Linked DNA regions of Homo sapiens. The protein of the gene in region 1 interacts with the protein of each later gene in a biochemical or structural test. Each region holds a gene or a part of one and is shown on either strand. Other genes may lie near its edges.

The links. Proteins that work in one complex are often made in the same cells at the same time.
Region 2: the proteins of LDB3 (region 1) and SDC4 interact in a test that uses a peptide from one of them, tested with the Homo sapiens proteins (one large-scale study listed by IntAct).

What each region holds. Positions count from the first base shown.
Region 1 is NC_000010.11:86,727,428-86,731,078, reverse strand, and holds part of LDB3 (LIM domain-binding protein 3), read right to left. Parts: intron 1-3,651. UniProt on the Homo sapiens protein: May function as an adapter in striated muscle to couple protein kinase C-mediated signaling via its LIM domains to the cytoskeleton.
Region 2 is NC_000020.11:45,327,983-45,331,451, forward strand, and holds part of SDC4 (syndecan-4 precursor), read right to left. Parts: intron 2,583-3,469; coding exon 2,384-2,582; intron 1-2,383. UniProt on the Homo sapiens protein: Cell surface proteoglycan which regulates exosome biogenesis in concert with SDCBP and PDCD6IP.

The DNA.
Region 1 (3,651 bases):
GGTTCAAGCAATTCTCCTGCCTCAGCCTCCCTAGTAGCTGGGATTACAGGCGCCCACCACCATACTCAGCTAATTTTTTTTGTAGTTTAGTAGAGACAGGGTTTCACCATGTTGGCCAGGCTGGTTTCAAACTCCTGACCCCAAGCAATCCACCTGCTTTGGCCTCCCAAAGTGCTGGGATTACAGGCGTGAGCCACCACGCCCAGCCCAAGAGATGAAATTCTATATCCCCATGATGACAACATATAGTCTGAGGCTGGAGGCATCCCAGAAAGAAGAGAACTAATTAATATTTGTGGGGACTACCATGGACCAAGCAGGATGCCAGACACTCTATATACAGCAGCTCATTTAATTCTCATGAAAACCTTATAAGGTAGGTAAGCCTTTCTCCCACTTCACAGCTGAAAAAACTGGGGCTCAGAGGGCCCATACGTCTTCCTTAAGTCACAGACCTAGTAAGTTGTAGGCTGGGAATCTCTGTCCATGTCTGTAAGACTCCAGTTCTATGCTAATTTTTCCCCTACCCCATAGAAGAAAGGGACTGTGTTTACTTGAAATTGATCTGGGTTCATGGGTTTGTACAGATGTAGCCCTCTGAGTTTGCTGGACTACTAGTATGTAAGCTGGGCCCTGGGTTGGCAATATGCCAGTAGGTCAGAGTCTGCCAGGAAATCACATTGGCTGGCATGGGTCCCAGCTTAGGAGAGGGCAGTGAAGATCCCTGCTGGGGGGCAGAATTGGGAGCCATCTCCAGGACACTGACATCAAGAGGAGTGCACGTGGAGTCCCCACATACAGGTATCCCCCATGGAGACAGAGAAATCACCCCCTTGAGTTGAGCTTGGGGCAATATGCATGTATTCAGTCCAAGAGAGTTGGAGAGGAAAAGGGCACCACGCTAGCCCCATGTGCAAGGCTCTGATGGTCCAGTTGGGGACGTTATACCTAGGATCACACAGGGCTTCCAATTGGGTTCTGGGAGCCAATGAGCTGCAAAAGTGTTTGAAAACATCCCAGGTGGATGCAGTGATGCTGAGTATAACCAGGCTCGTGTGGAGGCCTCAAGCTGCTGGTGACAATTTAAAGACTATGCAAAAAGATGGACATCCAAGATCTAACTGGTGAGAATGGGCTTTAGGGAAGACAGAAAGGCATCTCTGGAATGAGTCAGCCTGTCAATGACTGCAGCTGTGGGTGGGAGACCATACCTGGACTGGGACAATGCTGGTTGCTTGTGAGAACTTTGGGATGAGTCAGGCTGGGGAGAGAAGGTGTCCAGGGACTGAAGACCAACAAATGAGAAAGGGACAGAACCTCAAAGATGGCTCATAGGTGAGATGGGGCTGAGGGTGGGAACCCTCATAAGGAGTTGTGCCCAGTGTCTTCTTGGTGCAAGGTGGCTTCATAGTGGAGGAGGCCTTCTGCCCACCCAGCACAGGGGGCAACAGGGATGGTCCAACCCCCAGGCTCTGTGGCTGGGTGACATCAGGGCCTGGCTATAAAAGGGTAGCGACCATGGACAGTGCTGACTGCAAGTCCCAGCAGAGTTAGGGTAATAAACTAGGCCAGCTGCAGCAGCCCCTAGGTCTGCCTACAAAAGTTATATTACTGCCCATCCCCTCCTGATACCCACACCAGTGGGGAAGGGCAAGACTTAGAGCAAAAGAGGGATGGGTAAGACATTTTTCCTCCACTAAGGTCGGACCCTTTCCATTGGAACTCAAGTGTCGACGCCAGACAGAAGCTTAACTTTCACCCTGACCCACAGTGCACTTCTCAGGCTCCCAGCCTTCACTTTATATGCTTTGGACTTGAGGGATACTGTCCTGTTCTACTTTTGAATTGCTCACATCTGTTGCTTTGTTCACCTTTCAAGATTCTAGATTCCGTCAGGGTAGAGACTTGTTCTGGAACACTCTTGTACTGCCCAAATGCCAGGAATATTTGGTAAACTGAGTTAGTCTAAAGAATGTGCTATCCTGAGATCTCACTGGTTAGAAAACAGCACATCAGCTGGGAGAGCTACCCCAGATCTTTCTCTTACTAATTTTTTGGAAGTTACAGGAAAATACATGCTCATCAAAAGTGATTTGGAAATATGAAGTGATAGAAAGAGGACCAAAAAAAAAAAAATCCCTCAAGTCCCTCAAAGTTTTCCAATCAAAAGATTTCTTCCTAATGTTAAGACCATGTTCCGGCTGGGTGTGGTGGCTCACACCTGTAATCCCAGCACTTTGGGAGGCCGAGGTGGGTGGCTCATGAGGTCAGGAGTTCAAGACCAGCCTGGCCAAGATGGTGAAACCCCGTCTCTACTAAAAATACAAAAATTAGCCAGGTGTGGTGGCAGGCGCCTATAATCCCAGCTACTCAGGAGCCTGAGGCAGAGAATTGCTTGAACCTGGGAGGTGGAGGTTGCAGTGAGCCAAGATCGCACCACTGCACTCCAGCCTGGCGACAGAGCAAGACTTTGTCTCAAAAAAAAAAAAAAACAAAAGAACCATGTTCCACTTTGCTATATGTTGACAGAGCAGTGAGTATCATGCAGGCTGGTTTGGAGGGAGACCTAACGATCTCCATGTTGATCCTCTAAAGGGCAGTGCTATGGGCCTCTCACAGGCTGGACTTCACTCTCTGGAACTTATTTGTAATATCAGCCTTAGCCACCCCAAGCTTTACGCCTTCTTCTGGTCTCTCTCTTGGACTTTTGCTGTTGTGACTCAGCTGAAATTGCGAGGCTTGCAGAAGCAGACCCACACTCACCTTTGCCACGATTCCCTCTGCATGTGACACAGACCTCTCATCAGCCTGCCCATGGAAAACAGGCCTTCTGTGCCACTGTCTTCCTGGACCTTCCCCAAGTCTCTTGGATCCTTCCAGAAGTTGGGTAACCAGATGTGCAGGCAGTGCCTCAGGACTAGACAAGCCATGGCTTGAATGTAAGGTTCAGAGACCCCTGTGCTGTGCCTGACACAGGGGAGCTATGACTCTGCAGGGGACAAACCCAAAGCCAGTATACTTACACCATTGTCTCTTTTTGGAGGGGATGTATTTAAAACACCCTAAAAGACAACTAGAGAATCTGTTCAAAGAGCTAGAAAATCAGAGTGTTAAGGGGTTGAATTGTATTCCACAAAATTCACGTGCAAGAAGGCAGAGTTTGCCGTGAGCTGTGATCACGCCATTGCACCCCAGCCTGGGCAACAAGAGGGAAACTCCATCTCAAAAAAAAAATAAAAAAAAAAAGGAGACCCACACAGAGACAGACACACTCAGAGGAGAATGTCATGTGAAGACACACACAGAGGGGAGACAGGCTTGTGACAATGGAGGCAGGGATTGGAGTTACACAGCTGCAAGCCAAGAAATGCCAAGGATTGCTAGCAACCGCTAGTAGCTCGGAGAGAGACTATGGCCTCCTGTCAGCACCTTGATTTAGGACTTCTGGCCTCCTGAACTGTGAAAGCATTCATTTCTGTTGTTTGAGCCATCAGTTTGCAGTAATTTGTCAAGACAGCCCTAGCAAACCGACACACAGAGTGAATACAGTGTGTCCCACAGATGGCGGGGTATGGAAGCGAAGTGTGGAACCAAAAGTATATGGCCGTAAACTTTATGACTAGGGTCATCCTATGTCAGAAGTCTATAAAA
Region 2 (3,469 bases), on another chromosome or scaffold:
TTTCCAAACACCACGCGGACTCCCCTGCAACAGTCTAGCACTAACTGAACCAGGAACAGGAGAAAACCGTAGGCTATGGAAATCCCTGTAGACATATTTATCCTGCAGTCCTTAGCACAGGGCACTCTCTAGCTCTCCCTGTGTGCATATTTACCTATATAGCCTACACTTCATAGACAGGTATGTACATTCAAAGTGCACACATGCAGAACATACTAATTCCAAACTCTTATGTTACAATTACATACAGAACTCAGTAGCTAAGGCCTGGTTTCCACTCCTACCTCTCCTACTTCCTGGCTGTGTGATTTGGGGCAAGTTTCCTTCATCTCCCTACCGCAAAATGGGAAGAGCCATACCTTTCTCATACATTTGTCCTAAGGATTAAATAAATTAATCCACTCAAAGTGCTTAGAACAATGCCTAGTGCATAGCATATTCTCAAGATTCATTAACTGTAAGGGTTTAAGGTTTATATCTGTGTCCCGAACCCCCTGAATCAGGTGTGCACAACAGGAGGTGCTTAATAAATGATACTTTCAGGCTCCGAGAGGAGAACCTGCCTAGTGTTGGGCAGAGATGGGCTTCTAACAGTGAGTGGGTCTGGCCTGTCCACTCTGCCAGGTGGCCTGAATGACTCATTCCTGTTTGCTAGGGGCAGGGATGCTTCATAGAATCCCTTCTGTGGCAGATTGAGTTCCCTAATTCGGTCTTACTCGGGCTAAGAAGATTAATTTTCCATCCCTGCACACACTACAAATCTATGTACACAATGGGGACAGAGTGGCACAGAGGAGTCAAGCAAGGTTCTTTCTTGGGTAAAATCCTATGAAAAAGCAACAAAAAAGTACCCCCAGGAGGTGCCAGAGCAAGCACATGGAATATCAGGCATCAACCCCATTCTTGTCTCTATCACCTTTCCCTCTGATGACCCCAGTTCCTCCACGAGGCCCTGGGTCTGCGCTGGGATGCCCCACAGGGTCAAGTTTCAAGCACAGGCTCAGAAGCTGACTGTGGTCCTCAGTCCAAATGCCAGGTCTGCCACTTCCAGCTTTGTGACTTCGGATAAGTTCTTTAGACTGAGTTTTGTGTTGTACGGACTCAATCAGGGGCACAGGAATCATACAGCATACAGCAAGCATTTAATAAGGCTCCTGGGTGCTGATTAAAGCTTCTGGAATGGGGGATTCCACCACACCAGCTAACAATATAACTTTTCACATGAGGCTCTTAGGCTTGTATAATTCTCAAATGGAAGATTAAAGAGATAACCTGGCTTCAGTTCTTTTCTTACTATGTGGCCTAAAGCCTGGGCCTCAGTCTCCCCATGTATAAGAAGCAGGTGCTTAGATTAATCAGTGGTTTTCAAATTTTTCTTTAGAAGCAATAGCACCTTTAGTTAATTAGAGCAAAACCTTATGCAAATCCAAAGTCTTATGCAAATCTTTTTACTTCTGAAAGAAAAGTAAAAAGAACTTTGGCTCAGATACCAGGAAGCCAGGGTCAGGGCTGAGGTGGGCCCAGTCATCAGGGGCTGTGCTCCCAGGAACCCTCTTTACAAGAGGCAGGTGAGACCTTCCATCTGTCCTGGATGAAGCCAGGCTCTGTCCCTATAGCTCAAGCCTCCTTGGAGCTGCTGGCTCTGTTGATTCCCAGGAGACAGGAGTTACCCAGCATGGGCCCAGGGTGCCCACTTGCCAGGCCGGTTCATCCAGGCTGGCCCTCGGCCATGACCTTGGGGAGTTCCCTCCATCCCTTTTGTCAACACCTGGGACAAAGCATTCCTCACCGCACATTCCAGTAAAGAACTCTCAACTGAGGCCAAATCGGAATAGCCCTTTATAGTGTGCAAAGTTATTTCATATTTTATTTTTCATGGACTCATTATATCAACCCCAGAAGGTATCACTGTACCCATTTTACAGATAAGGAAACTGAGGCTCATCAAGTTCGAAAGCTTCTCAGCCAAGGTCACAAGGCTGCCAAGTGATAGAGTAGGGGGAGGGGAAGCTAACCCAATTCGAAGGAGCCTCCAGACTTACAAGGGAAATTAACTTTTAATGATTAACTCCCAGATGCCAAACTTATACAGTGAAAGTCCTTTGCAAAATAAATGAGAAAGACTTAAGGCAGAAGAATGACTCAATGCCTATTTTCCAGAAGACTTTGATAGGTGCTTTTTCCTCTCCCTCCACCAGGCTGCACAGTCAGAGCCACCCCATAAGGAAGGTGTAGTCTTTCAATGTTCTAGGGCAACCTGAATAGGCAAAAGGAAGGGGCACCAAGGAGCCTCATGGCTGGAGGCATCCCTGCCTGCAGGTGCTCTCCCCCGCTGAGCCCCATTCCACCTTCAAGGCATCTTATAAGCAGCATGGGGACTTACCTGCCAGGACCTCCGTTCTCTCAAAGATGTTGCTGCCCTGCACAGTGCTGGACATTGACACCTTGTTGGACACATCCTCACTCTCTTCAACGGGTGAGATTCTCTTGGGGATAACCTCATTCTCCTCTAGTTTCTTGGGTTCGGTGGGGACTTGGCTCCCAGACCCTGCCCTCTCAGGGATATGGTTATCTAGAGGCACCTGGATGGGCGGAAAGGAGAAGAGACACTCAGCGTATTTTGGAAGAGACTCAGGGCAGGGGACAGGGACATTCAGCCAGGCAGAGAATCTGGTTCTGCCATATTCAGCTGAACCATATGGTCCTGGAGCAGGAATTGGCAACACTGTCTCCACAATTATGCTGCCAAAATCCTTATCCCCAACTTTTTTAGTATATCTGTCCCAAATGAAAAATGAATGCACCCAAGGGAACAGGGAAGCAGGTGCTCTCCTGCACTGCTGGCCACTGGTTATTCTAGAGCAACCACTCTGGAAGCAATTTGGCAAAACCTTAGACATCGCTTGCCCTTTAAGGTGGCAGTTTTGCCCTGGAAACTCTATTGTAAGGAGCTCTTCAGAGACTACGTGTAAAAGATGCTTGCTGCAGCTCCTCTGCCTATGAAGTAGCCATTCTTTTATTCCTTTACTGTCTTAATAAACTTGCTTTCACTTTACTCTATGGACTCACCCTGAATTCTACCTTGTGCAAGATCCAAGAACCCTCTCCCTTGGGGTCTGGATCGGGACCCCTTTCTGGTAACATCTTTCTGGAGAACCACAGAAGGGATGAGACGGAGGAGACTCCCGAATCAAAGGAAATGGACTGCAGCACTGATTGGAGGACTTTGGATATCACCTTTTGTCAGAACTAAGAGTTATGAATGGCCCTCACCATACTGGCCCTTTCTGACTGAACCCCTCTCTACCATGGATACAAGAGGCCCTAATAGTTAAGCAGGAATATCATCACCCTATTCAGCATGAAGAAGTTATAGAAGATGGATCTTTGTCCCTCTGCAACCCTTAGGATTAAGGGTTTTCTTACAAAAGGGAGGGGGAAAATGTCAGGTGTTTGAACCAGAGTGCCT